Linked DNA regions of Homo sapiens. The protein of the gene in region 2 purifies or fractionates together with the protein of the main gene of each other region. This does not show direct contact. Each region holds a gene or a part of one and is shown on either strand. Other genes may lie near its edges. The genes, in order: ABCB10 and SLC24A5.

Region 1 (7,280 bases), on a different chromosome or scaffold from region 2:
ACGAATACTGGCAGAGGTGGCACAGCTCTGAAGCTGGCATTCATGACAGCAACTGCCTAAATTTGTAGCTTCCTGACCATGCCAGTGTCAGCAGCTACCTTGAAGGCCTGGTTCTGGGGTGGAGTTCTGCAAACTGTCCTGGAAGTACAATCTAGAATCTATTTTGTCATTCCTGCCAGTGATTTTTGAGCTCTTTTATTACTCCTTAAAATATCCCTTTCTGTAATAAGCTTAGTTGGTGAGGAATCTGTTGTCTGCAACTAAGAATCTGGTCGATACCATGGCAGAGCTTTTAAATAATCAGACGCTATCTTTATGACTTTTGCTAACAGAATTCTTCACATTGAGGGTGCTCAACAAAACTTGGTGATGATGACAACAGTGACAGCATAAGAAATGCCATTTCTTCTCAGTTAATGTTGTGGAATTATAGAAGCCAGCTGGAAATGTTCACAAACTGGCAAAAACTTGAGGTCTTTGACGAAAAAGCACAAAGCTCTTTATAGACTACACATGGCAGACATTTAACTGCAGTTTGCTTTGTCCTGGATTTATTCATTGTGATGAAGAAACTAGAGACTCAGTATTTTTACTTGAATTACAGCAACCTAAATAGGATTTTTTTTGGTCTTTTTTTTTTTTCCTTTTTATGGAGAACAAGGTCTCACTATATTGCCCAAGCAGGTCTCAAACTCCCGGGCTCAAGCTATCCTCCCACCTCTGCCTCCCTAAGAGCTGAGATTACAGGTGTGAACTACTGTGCCCAGCTAACTAGGATTTTTTTAAACTCCAAATTTTATAGCAAGTGAATGGTGAATCAAGAAAGTGATTCCAGAGACAAACAATGTAGTAAGCCCCATTTTAACACAGGTGGTGATTCCATGGGTCAGGATTTGCAAGTCACATATTTATCTGACATGTAACCAGCTCTCACATTGTTTTAACCAAAAAGCATAAGCACAAAGACACAAAACATTCATTTTTTAAATTACAGAATTTTTTTTTTTTAATAAATAGTGACAGGGTCTCACTATGTTACCCGGGCTGGTCTCCAACTTGTGGCCTCAAGTGATCCTCCCACCTCAGCCTCCCAAAGTGTTGCAATTACAGGTGTGGGGCTCCACATCTGGCCAAAATATTCTTTCTAAATTCATGATTTGATTTTTACTAAGAGTTGTTTGCTTGCTGACATTGTTGTCTACTACAGGGAAGATAGAAGTAAAATCATGTGCTCTTTGCTCTTAAAGATGTTATAATCCAGTTAAAAATAAAATAAAAACTAGAATGAGAAAAATCATCCATTAAGAAAATCCCGGCTGGGCGCGGTGGCTCACGCCTGTAATCCCAGCACTCTGGGGGACTGAGGAGGGTGGATCACGAGGTCAGGAGATCGAGACCATCCTGGCTAACACGGTGAAACCCCATCTCTACTAAAAATACAAAAAAAATTAGCCGGGCATGGTGGCAGGCGCCTGTGGTCCCAGCTACTCGGGAGGCTGAGGCAGGAGAATGGCGTGAACCCGGGAGGCGGAGCTTGCAGCAGTGAGCTGAGATCGTGCCACTGCACTCCAGCCTGGGCAACAGAGCAAGACTCCGTCTCAAAAAAAAAAAAAAAAAAAAAAAAAAAAAAAAAAGAAAATCCCTACTAGGTCAAAATAGTTTCAATGGAACAGTCACATAGAAGTTAATCACTGGCCAGGCACGGTGGCTCACACCTGTAATCCCAGCACTTTGGGAGGCCAAGGCGGGTGGATCACGAGGTCAGGAGATCGAGACCATCCTGGCTAACACGGTGAAACCCCAACTCTATTAAAAATACAAAAAATTAGCTGGGCGTGGTGGCAGGCACCTGTAGTCCCAGCTACTCGGGAGGCTGAGGCAGGAGAATGGCGGGAACCCAGGAGGCAGAGCTTGCAGTGAGCTGAGATCGCGCCACTGCACTCCAGCCTGGGCGACAGAGCAAGACTGTCTCAAAAAAAAAAAAAAAAAAAAAAAAAAGAAGTGAATCACTGATGGCCAAGTTAACTGTGTGCACAATAAGCATTCAATGGCTCACAGGCAGAGGCAGAGGTTCTCCAGGAGCTCCCTATCACTCCTGCGCCCAGCACGCGCACTGGCACACGGTGGTTCTCCAGGGTGCTGCTGGAGCACCCCAGGCACTCTGTCCTGGCTGCTGAGCACAGCCTCGTCCACCTGCTCCCAGTAGAGGGCATGTCCAGAGGAGATACCCGCATGGGAGATGAGGAGGTAGATCTGGGGAAGTCACTCTGGGCTTGAAGAGGTAGGACACATTACACACAAAAAGCTCTAAAGGCCTCTGTATGAGCTGTCATGCCCCTGCAAATGACACCTTCTGTTTGAGGGATTTCTTTCCACTGGCACTTAGAAAAGAAGGTACTCTACAAAATAAGGTATTTGCATGGTTTGAGCATCTCCTAGGGCGCAAAAGTGGGAGCAGAGCTCGGGAGAGTCCCTCGGTGCTACAGTGTGGTGAACTGCTTACCAGAAGCAGGGTCGTACAACCTCAGCAGGAGTGAAAGCACTGTTGATTTGCCAGAACCACTTGGGCCAACCAGTGCCGTGACAGATCCTGACGGAATGGAAAGGCTGAAATCCTGAAATATGGGCACCTCTGGGCGAGCTGGATAGGCAAAATGCACGTTCTTAAACTCCAAAGCACCCTGGAAGCTTTTCTCATTTAAGATGACCCCCTCTGAAACATAAAATGGAATATTAATTACTTACAGCAAAAAATTAAACTCAAAAGCTGAACTCGGTTCTCCTACTCATCTGGCTATGGATGGGTGACTCCACCACAGCTAATCCTGGTATATGAGCTCTTAAAGGGCAAGTCAGAAGCAAACCTAGGCTAAATGCTTACCACGTGCCAACTCTGCACCTACTATGTCCAAGGTACTATATACGTAGACGGTCTTACTTGATCCTTACAACCCTGAGAGGTAGAAATTATAATTCCAATTTTGCTGATGAGGACATTGAAGACCACAGACAACAACCTGCTTAAGCTAACAAGTAGTGGAGTTAAGATCCACCCTTGTTAGTCTGGTTTCAAATCCGATGGCCTTCTCTCTATGCCACTGCCTCTGTGTAGCTCCAGAGTTTATCTTACCTACCCGGAATAAATATTTTGGAAGAGTTATGATGAAACGGGGAGCGCTGCACAGCAGCCGCAGAACTGGAGGGGTCAGAGGTCTGTTCTGCCCTGGTGTTCACCTACTGTGCTTTGGGAGACACTACTGAAACTCTCTCAGCTGGACCTATTTCCTAGGCCTATCACATTGGAGAATATTGGGCTTTCATTTATGGACCTGGGGCTACCTGACAATGTCCTAGGAAGTCAATAAGCAGCTGGGAGTGGTTACTACTCATAGCCATTTCTCCTGATTCCTGGCTAGTTGGTTTAGGCCCTACAGCTCCAGGGAAGTCACTGATAAGGAAGGAGATGGCTCCAGCCAATGAGTACCAGCCTCCCCTACCCCACACCAAAATGCCAAGAAACTTAGATATTTTCTTATGTCTGATTCCTCCTCCCTTATTCCCACCCTAGCCCTCCACAGAGATGTCAGAATCACTAGGGAAGATCAATTTGGTAAACTAGCTGGGACACAGCCCTGGGCCACACTGACTTCCATCCTGCCCTTTGCGGTAACACCCAGATGGAGGGAGGGGAACAGAGGGCAGCACACTATGTGGCCAGCCCATGCATCCAGGGACACCCTGGCCCACAACAGTGCCCCAGCAGCTGTCCCACCCCCTCTCATAGAAAACCTGACCACCTCCTCACCCGGCCCGCCATGCAGCAGGAGCCACATCCTTACTGTGGCTCATCCCTCACTCCCTTGCAGACAGGGGAAGAGCTGGTCTCATTGTTCAAAGCCACATTTGTTAATCCTAGCAAAGAAACAATTTTCAGACCCACCGTTAAAAGGCAGCTTGGGCTCTCTCTCCAGGAGCTCCCAGAGGCGCCCCCCTGCACCCAGTCCTTTCATCAGCTCCGAGTAGAAAGAGCTCAGACCTGAGGATGAGAAGCAGAATCCACACACATGTCCATCACTGGCACTGGCACTGGCCACCACTCCTCTGAGAGGAGTGACAATGATTGCTTTTAATATAAAATCTGTTATTAATATTTTCAAAAAACAACTTGAGGCAGCTTCCTGGGAACTGATACTCAGAATTGCTTGTCTCATACTCTAGTTTTCCTTTGGCTTCTCCTCCTCCAGTTTCATAGTTTTTTTTTTTTTTTTTTTTTTTGAGACAGATCATCACTCTGTCACCCAGGCTGGAGTGCACTGGCACAATCTCAGCTCACTGCAATCTCCATCTCCCCAGTTCAAGTGATTCTCCTGCCTTAGCCTCCCGAGTAGCTGGGATTACAGGCGCAAGCCACCAGGCCTGGCTAATTTTTTTATTTTTAGTAGAGATGGGGTTTCGCATGTTGGCAAGGCTGCTCTCAAACTCCTGACCTTAGGTGATCCACCCGCCTCAGCCTCCCAAAGTGTGGGATTATAGGCATGGGCCACTGCACCTGGCCACATTTCACTGATTTCTAATAAGGACTTAATGTTTGATCAGGGATTGAAAAACATATATAGTCATACTCATCAACCACTGGATTAAAATCATAATGCCGCAGAGGAAATCTACCTAGTTAAAAGCATTGTAATTTAACTGAAATGTAATGCTATCTCATAATTTAAAAAAATATAAAATACTTCAATGTTGATTTTAAAGACAAATCCACAAAATAATACCTCACCTTCAGCCACTCAATAAATACAACTTTGATACGCTACTCACATACTCCCATATACTTCAAGTAATCTCTAGATTACTTATAATACCTCATACAATGTAATGCTATGTTTAAAAAAAAAAAAAGGGCCAGGCAAAATGGTTCATGGCTGTAATCTCAACACTTTGGGAGGCCAAGGTGGGAGGATTGCTAGAGCCCAGGAGTTCAACATCAGCCTGGGCAACATAGAGAGAACCCTGTTTCTACAAAAAATAACTGTAAGGCCAGGCCTGGTAGCATGTGCCTATATTCCTAATTACTTGGGAGGCTGAGGCAGGAGGATTGCTTGAGTCCAAGAGGTTAAGGCTGCAATGAGGTATTACTGCACCACTGCACTCTGGCAGCACTCAGAGCAACAGAGCGAGACCCTGTCTCAAAACAAAAAACAACAACAACAAAACTTTCACAGTAGTAAAAACTGAAATAAATTTGGTTAATGTTAAACATTCCAGCAATCTCTTTATTTTTATTTTTTTGTGGAGACAGGGTCTCACTATGTTCCCTAGACTGGTCTTAAACTCCTGGGCTCAAGCAATCCTCCTGCCTTGGCCTCCCAAAGTGCTGGAATTACAAGTGTGTGTCACCGTCCCTGGTCTCTAGCCATCCCTTTTTAAAGTCAGCTTTGAACCATTATTATTATTTTTTTTTGAGACGGAGTCTTGCTCTGCTGTGGTGTAGTATCTATCACTGAACCTCTGCCTCCCAGGTTCAAGCAATTCTCCCTGCCTCAGCCTCCCGAGTAGCTGGGATTACAGGTGCCCCCCACCATGCCTGGCTAATCTTTGTATTTTTAGTAGAGATGGGGTTTCACCATGTTGGCCAGGCTGGTCTCCAACTCCCAACCTCAAGTGATGTACCCACCTCAGCCTCCCAAAGTGCTGGGATTATAGGTGTAAGCCACCATGCCTAGCCTGAACCATTTAACAACTTAAACCCCAAATGCAATGGTCTACATCAAATGTGAGGACATACATTTGTAACATTTTCCCTCAGTGAGGATGCTGAAAAAATACAATTCAAATATTCTACAGTATGAATATTTATGCAAGATACAATGGACTAAAATTTTTAGGCTGAATTAAAAATGCATTTGGCAAAAATAGACCCCCATAAACAGTCAACTGATTTTTGACACAGAAGCAAACGCAATACAATGGAGATGCAACGGCAATATACATATTATCTTTTTAACAAATGGTTCTAGAACAACTGAATATCCACATGCAAAGAAGGAATCTAGACACAGACCTTACACCTTTCCCAAAAACTAATGTAGAGTGAATTACAGACCTAATGTAAAACACAAAACAATAAACTCCTAGAAGGCAACCTAGGAGCAAGTGTAGATGACCTTGAATTTGGTGATGACTTTTTAGATACAATACCAAAGGTACAATCCATGAAAGAAAGAAGCTGGACTTCATTAAAATTAAAAATGTATGCTTTGCAAAAGACAATGTGAAAAGAAGAGGACCAGCCACAAACTGGAAGAAAATATCTGTAAAAGACCTATCCAATAAAGGATTGCTACCCAAAATATACGAAGAACTCTTAAAACTCAACAATACGGAAACATGAAGACTTACTTAAAAATGGTCAAAAGTCCTGAACAGACAACTCACCAGAGAAAATATACAGAGAGCAAATAAGCATATGAACAGACGCTCAACATCATATGTCATCAGGGAAATGCCAACTAAAACAACAATGAAATACCATGCATCTATCAGAATGGCTAAAAGCTAGAACACTGACGCCACTAAATGCTGGGGTGGATGTGGAGCAACAAGAACTCTCATTCCTTGCTAGTGGGGATGCAAATGGGACACACATTTTGGAAGGCAGTTTGGGAGTTTCTTACAAAACTAAAATTTTTTTTGTAAGAAAAAAATTCATTCGGTCACCATAGAGATGTCAAAAATTGCCAATGCTGGCCGGGTGCGGTGGCTCACACCTGTAATCCCAGCACTTTGGGAGGCCAAGGTGGGCAGATCACTTGAGGCCAGGAGTTCAAGACCAGCCTGGCCAACAGGGTGAAACCCTGTCTCTACTAAAAAAAAAAATACAAAAATTAGGCCAGGCGTGGATGGCTCATGCCTGTAATCCCAGGACTTTGGGAGGCCGAGGCAGGTGGATCACCTGAGGTCAGGAGTTCAAGATCAGCCTGGCCAACATGGTGAAACCCCGTCTCTACTAAAAATACAAAAAAAATAGCTGGACGCAGTGGCACGCACCCGTAGTCCCAGCTACTCGGGAGGCTGAGGCTGGAGAATCGCTTGAACCTGGGGGGGTGGAGGTTGCAGTGAGCCAAGACCGCGCCACTGCACTCCAGCCTGGGTGACAGAGCAAGACTCCATCTCAAAAAAAAAAAAAAAAAAAAAGGCCAAGCATGGTGGCGGATGCCTGTAATCCCAGCTCTTTGGGAGGCTGAGGCACAAGAATTGCTTGAGCCCGGGAGGTGGAG
Region 2 (7,280 bases):
TTATTATAAACTTAATTTGGAGAGGCATACCTCTTATACCTGAAAGAGTAGAAGCTAAAATTTTTGTAAAAAGGGGGAAAAGTCATGTTTTAAAATTTTAAGTAGTAGATTAGAATAAAACCCTCCTAAAGGCTTAATTAAATTTAGAATCTGTTTTGGACAACCACTTTATAAAAAGGTAACCCATGAACTTATAATTTTGACCATAGCTGAATTTTCTGACTTCCTACTGAACCTATTTACCTAAAAGTTTTGCTATTGCTTTAAACAATGGTAAACCTCAGCTGTTTTTCTTCTTTCTTCCAAACCAGCCCCTTTTTCTGAGTTCCCAGTTTTAATAAGTGCTGTTCCCATTTTCTCAGTCAAGATTAAAACATAGGAGGTGTCTTTGTTCCTTTTTCTGGCCCCATATAGTCTTGGTGATGCTTCCTTCATATAGTCTCACATCTGTTCTCATTTATTCCCACCACTTTCACTTGGTCTAGGCACCTAGTAAACACATCAGCTGTTGTAATAGCCTCTCTTACAGACCTCTTTGTCTCTTCATATTTTAGTTCGGTGAACATCATTTTGGGTAACATTACTAAGATAACAGTTCTAATAATTTCTCTCCTCAGAAACCTTCCAAGATTCTTAAAATAGCATTTAAGATTCTTCTTATCCTATTCCTTTCTACCTTTCCTCTCCTTCCTTCCTATGCACATACTGTGCTCTATGTGTTTTATCTCTGCATCATTTATGGAATGAAGACCTCAGTAGCTGCTACTTATTGGTCATAACATATGTCATTAGTTAAAGTCTTTCCTGTCCAGCAAGGCCCAATTTAAATGCTCCCTTCTCTGTGAAAATCTCCTATCTGTCCTCACCACATTTTGGCAATCTGTCCCATTTGTGAACCACAGTCACACTTTATTTTTCTCTTTTTATGGTACTTAACGTTCATACTTTAGCTATTTTGTATTTCCTGTGATATTGGAAGTTCCTTAAAGGTAGGGACTTGGTCTTTATCATTTCTGAGTCTTCACAGTCTTTTTTACATAAAAAGCACACAATACTTGCTGAATTGAAATGAAATTTTAAAGTTTTTCCTTTGCGAATAGACTTAATAATGGGCAAGATTTAGTGATTACCTTCAGAAACCTGACTAAGGCCATGTAAACTTATAGAGAGCTGAGAGTAGCCAGAATCTTCATAAAATATTCCACTATCAGTTCTTGATTGCCGACGAATGAATGGTTGACCTTCATCTTCCCAGCCCATCAGTGGCTGTTGTTCACTTCTCTCCATAGCTTTGGCAAGACAGGCGCAGCAAGGACTGCATTTCTTTATAATATATTGGTTAATTTTAATGTCAAAACACAGCACCAAAACATACAATCCATATATCAAAAGCAGTAAAGCCCCTTCATACCTACAAAAGAGAAATTTGTGTTTTTAAATTAAAAGTGAAAGTCATTTTAGAGTTGATAGCTTTTGGGCAGTATCTATTGAATGATTTTCTAACAAAAGTAGCCATAGAACAATCAAACATTTCTAGATATTTTTTGTTTTGTAGATTTGTCCAGACTTGATTACAGCATTATTATGTTTATTGATAAAAGCTGGACACTTCTGTGTTGTTTTTTTTTTTTTAAAAACAAGATCAACAAACTCGTTTTTACTTGTAGATTCCTTCCAAATGATAGGTATAAAAATGCAAGGAAAATGATAATTGGAGATTTTCAAAATAAATGTAAAATTAATAAATAGTGGTGAACATTTTCTGCCTCAGCTCATTGGCATAATACATTCCCCAACATACATAATAATTATAAAATAATATAGTAACTGTTAAGTTATTTCAACTGTCCAAGTTTTCTGGTATAGGAACTTTGTGTAAAATATTACTCAGATATGGGAGGCTTAGGCTGGGATTTTTCAGTTTGTCATACAGAGCATTTTTAATGATTTGAATGTAGCTGAATTTGGCTTACAGTCACAAGAAAACAAGATGTTCTAAAATATAAAATTATACCCTTGGAACCAAGAACTGTTTCCCTGTACTCTGGCAGTTAGCTAATGCCATCACATTTGAACCTTGCATTTACCTTTTATAGCCAGTGAATCTCTGTCTGCTGTATCTTAAAGAACAGTTCTGATTTCCCTAATGGAGGAAGAATTAGCTTGGATACTCTCACAGTCACTATCCCTTACAGACAACTGCTGAGTTCTAGAAGGATTTCTATTCTACCAACACAGTGTCTTAGGGAGACGGACTAGAGGACAGGATGATTAGTTTAGAAATTATGCTTCTGGCTAGGTTTTAAGTTTCTTGATAGCAGGTATTACGCCGTGCTGCAAGGTTATGGTTCTCCAGATGGACACCATTACATTTTTTTTTTTTCATATTTTTCTGGTGTCCTCTGGAGTTATGCAATGTATATAACCTGTGTAGCTGTGTTTTACATTTCATTATCCCTTATGATATCTAGCATAGTGAGAAGGACCTAGTAGGTGCCTGCTGCTTACTAGTTGAAAAAGTTAGTATCTGTCCACTCAGTCACCACCTTTTTCATTTTCTTGGACCAGCTAGGCACAGAGAGATTGTAAGGAAAGCAAACAATTTTTAATATGAAAAGCTAAGCATTGTTATTTCTTAGAGGAAGGCTATAGTTTCTCCTGAATGAGCATCAGAAGTTTGGAGGAATTTAAAAAGACTTCTTTTACTTCCTCTACCATCCTTCTCCAGTCTTTTGTGGCCATGAACACTTCTAACCAAGGCAAGGTGAGCAGTAACCCAGCAGAAGAAAAAGTCAACTGTTGTGGCTTTAATGGACAACAGGAGTTGGGAAACTTTCTGAATAGGCAGCCAGTGGGGAGAAGGAAAAGTGGTGGTCTCCAGTGACTAGTGAGAGAAAAAAGGAGACTGTGAAGTGATTAAGAAGAAATTGCAAACTAGTGAGAAGAACTCAATCAGCAATTGTGATGAGGTTAACTCACAGACCTGTTGGAATATGGTATAGAAGTGGCAGATTAAGTGACTGAAATAACATTTCTGAAAAAAAATTACTGAACCATCAGAAATTCATAAAATCTCTAATTTTTACATAAGAATTATTTTCAAGCTTACCAGTAAACTTGGTTGTCATATATTATACCAAGAACTGCTGCTGCACTAATTGTGTACGCTGCACAGTCTCTGAATAGGGGCCAACATGATAGTGTTGAGACCTGTAATATGGTAAGTTATTATTTCCATTACATTGTAACTTCTTCAAGTACAATCCTTAGTATAATACTAAAATTGTTTATATATTTGTAGTTAAATATTGTTATCTTTTGCATATTGCTTAGAGAAAAAAATGTAAAATTGTGTTCTAACTTACACAGACTTTCATAAATCTGACCAAGAGCTATTTGTGGATTAACATTAAATTGAATACATGTTGTTTTTCTACTGATTAATAAATTTGATTGCACATATTATTAGTGCCCTGTTGTCCATCCCAGACGACGAACAGTTATCTTTAGAATTTTTTAAGACAATACATTTTGTTGAATGGTTTTGTTACATACCGTATTAGATAGCAAACCACAGGCAGCACAGATGCCAAGGAGATTATAAATTGCAGATCCAAGGATGGTGCTAATGCCAATATCTCCCTTTGTGATAAATACACCTATGTGCAAGATAGTACCAGCTAAGTTAGTGTTAACTTGAAGAAAATAAAAATCACACTGAGTAAGCAAGAAGTATAAGGAGCAATATTTACCTAGGAAAGCAGTAACTAATTCAGGAGCTGAACTGCCCGCTGCCATGAAAGTTGTGCCTGCAACATCCTGAGACAATCCAAGGGCTGAACATAAATGAAATGATTGTTATGCCTAATAAAGTGAAAGAGTATGTCTTTACAACTAAACACAATAGATACTCAAAGCTACAGCTTCACATAAAACCACTATTAAACTAGAAAAATAAAATACACAGATTAAAAGAGTCCAATGTTTTGCTTCTTTATGACTTCATTACTTAATGCTTCTATAGAAAGGGTGAGGGAAGGCCAGGAGACTAAAGGGAATATCCTGAGTGCCAAACATAGGGTTATTTGGAACCCAGAAAAGCGTTCAGAGGCAGAGGGCTTGTAGGTGAGTAGCAACAGCATGGCTTTGAAAATTAAGATAATTTGGAAATCCTAACCCAACTTCAAAGAAGAAAAAAAAGATGTTAGTTTTTTAGATGTATAATGCAGCTGAACAGAGCTTGTTCACAAATTTGCACACATCTGTTAAGTCATCTCAACTGTCCGTTCAAATTTTCTGGTATAGGACCTTTGTGTAAAATATTATTCGGAATATGGGAGGCTTTGGCTGGGGTTTTTCAGTTTGCCATGCAGAGAATTTTTGATGATTTGAATGTAGCTGAATTTGGCTGATAGTCACAAGAAAACTGGATATTCTAAAAAAATTTGCAGTTTCAACGTTGTCTAATTACAAATGAGAGAAAATAACTAGATTTAATATTGTGTAGTCTATTGATTTAAAACATGGATCTATTAAAATTTTGCTCTAGAATAGGAATATAAGAAAATACGTAATACTACAGTTTGTTTCTATCCACCAGGCTTACAAGCATGCAAGTTCATAAACTTTAGGGACTGACAAGATGAGAGTCACTAAATTAAGAAGTTTTTTGTCCTTTCAATTTTAGGGCCAAGGGACCTACCATGGGAAGGAACAGAGAAAGCCGTAGGCCGAGATAGGTTTGCATAAGAAATCCCCAACCAGGCTTTACTGATAAACTAAAAACTAGCTAATAGAGGTAGCATGCCATACATTAAATTATCTACCCTAGGTCACAAAGTTAGTATCGAAGTCAGAACTAGAATTTGGGTTTTCAAGACTTGATGGCAACTCTTTGTTGATGTTTATTGTCGTTTACTATACCTATTGGTTTTTGACGCTTCAGTCTTCCCAGACCCTCAAACTCTGGTGTGCTTGGTTGACTCCCTGTCACAGGTGGTTGGTATTTCCTTATTCTTGTCTCTGGGACCACCTGTTGCCTGCACTCAGGTGAACCTTGTTCTGTAGTCTGCTGGGACGGCATTTGAGCTTACTGATTCCTTTTGTGTTTCTTGGTGTGGCAGATTGTATATTACAATAATAGTTATGGTATTTTTCTGCTCCACGTAGTTTTCCAGAACCCTTTAATCCCCTACATAAAAGGTGATACGACTTCCTTACTATCATCACAGGACATTTCCCTTAAGCTACGACATGGTAAGTCCTGCTACTTTGTTGAAACCCCCATACTGGAGAAACCTCATGAAAAGCCCATATAGAAATAGAGATGTCTAAGGAATTGCTGCTGTTTCAGTCCCCAGATTTTGAAAATTCCCAGCCTAGGCACCAGACATATGAGAGAGTGAGCTCTCAGGTGATTCTAGCTCCATCCTCTGACCATAGCTGCACAAGAGACCCTGAGTGAGAACTACCTAGCTTAGCTCAGTAAACACCCAAAACCGTGAAAGTAATTGTTGTTTTTAGCCACTAGTTTTGGGGTGATAGTTAAGTCATCTGGTGGTTCATTTATTTGTTGTATTTATTGAGTACTTACTATATGCCAGATGCTTTTTTAATGTGCTAGTAATAAGGCAGTGAACAAAATAGACAAATATTCCTGCTCTCACAGAGCTTTACTTTTAGTAAGGGGAAGCAGATAAGATAAGCAAAATAGGTATGATGTTAGAGATAAGTTGCAAGGAGTAAAGGCAGGGAGGGGAGAGAGAGAAAAATGTCAGAGAGGAAGGATTGAAATTTTAGATTGGATAACCAGAAAGGACTTAATTGAGAAGGTAACTAAAGACCTTGAAATGAGTCATTTGTATGCCTGGGCTAAAAGTATTCTATGCAGAATAAATGACTGCAAAGGTATTGAGGTAGAGGCTAGTCTGTGTGGTGAAGAAACAGAAGACCTGCATGTCTAGAATGAAGAGTGTCAAGGGAAAGCAGTAGGTGATGAGATTAAAGGTAATAGGCAGATCATGTAAGGTCTTGTGGATCCTAATAAGGACTTTGGCTTTCATTTTGAAAGATGTGGGAAGTACTTAGAAATCTGTCACCTACATACTGTCTGCTGATGATACCAGCTCCAGTCATTAATTTTATCCCTTGGGGTAATTTGGTCTGAGAGATCCAACCAGCCCTAATCCAAGCTATTTTGACACCTGAAAAACCATTGTGAAAAGTTCTCTTGGGGTGGTTAGAATTATTTAGGCCAGGCCCTCTATTCTGTTTGCCTTTGGTCATGTTGCTTGTTGAACATCTACCTGCAGTGACTAGTGAAGGGTGAGAAATAAATGATTTTTGTAGTTTACATTGTATCCTAGTGCATTTTGTGTGTATAAAGGAATGCCTGAGACTGGGTAGTTTATAAAGAAAAAAAGGTTTATTTGGCTCATGATTCCTCTGTCTGGAAAAGTTCAAGATTGGGCATCTGGTGAGAGCCTCAGGCTGCTTCCACTCATGGTGGAAGATAGAGGGGGAACTGGTGTGTGCAGAGATCACATGGTGAGAGAGGAAGTAAGAGAGAGAGGTGGGTGGTGCCAGGCTCTTTTAAACAACCAGCTCTGTAAAGGAACTAAAGAGAGAGAACTCACCCCCTAGGAAAGGATTAACCCCCAGGATCTAAACACCTCCCATTACTCCCCACCTCCAACATTTAGGATCAAATTTCAACATGAGATTTGGAGTGGACAAATACCCAAACCATAGCATATTTCCTAGTATTTATTTTCCTGATTAGAGTGATTACATACATATACACATATACATGCATACGTATAATCACTCTAACCAGTGTGTGTATATATGTATAGACACACATATATACTATATTCTTATTACAATTCTGATGTGTACAACTGACCATAATATTTAAAACATAGAACAAAAAGATAAAGGAGATGGCTCTGTAATTAACTGTTTTTCATTTTAGAAATGAAGTAAATAATATATTCATGGTGTACAATGCACTCCCATATACATAATTTAATATCAACTATCATGAAATATGAGTGGTGGTATTCCATTTTACAGATAAACAGGCCCAGGAGGTAAAATAATGTCACATGGATTGCAAGGATCTGAAATGTTGAGAGTTAGGGCATAAACCCTGAGCCTGTTGATTCTAAGCCCAATGCTGTTTTTATTTTACCACAGAAACCCAATATAAGAATGGCACTTAGGCCCATTAGAACATGGTAGGTGACTGAATCTTTTTTGTTTACACTTTGTGGCACTGG

Evidence for each region.
Region 1: the proteins of SLC24A5 (region 2) and ABCB10 purify together in Homo sapiens (affinity purification with mass spectrometry; 3 studies listed by BioGRID and IntAct, with this or other methods). This does not show direct contact.

What each region holds. Positions count from the first base shown.
Region 1 is NC_000001.11:229,527,696-229,534,975, forward strand, and holds part of ABCB10 (ATP-binding cassette sub-family B member 10, mitochondrial), read right to left. Parts: intron 4,037-7,280; coding exon 3,941-4,036; intron 2,714-3,940; coding exon 2,504-2,713; intron 1-2,503.
Region 2 is NC_000015.10:48,130,814-48,138,093, reverse strand, and holds part of SLC24A5 (sodium/potassium/calcium exchanger 5 precursor), read right to left. Parts: intron 3,837-7,280; coding exon 3,753-3,836; coding exon of another isoform or gene 3,660-3,752; coding exon 3,556-3,659; intron 3,463-3,555; exon of another isoform or gene 3,211-3,462; coding exon 3,110-3,210; exon of another isoform or gene 1,412-3,109; coding exon 1,131-1,411; exon of another isoform or gene 1-1,130. UniProt on the Homo sapiens protein: Calcium, potassium:sodium antiporter that transports 1 Ca(2+) and 1 K(+) to the melanosome in exchange for 4 cytoplasmic Na(+). Involved in pigmentation, possibly by participating in ion transport in melanosomes.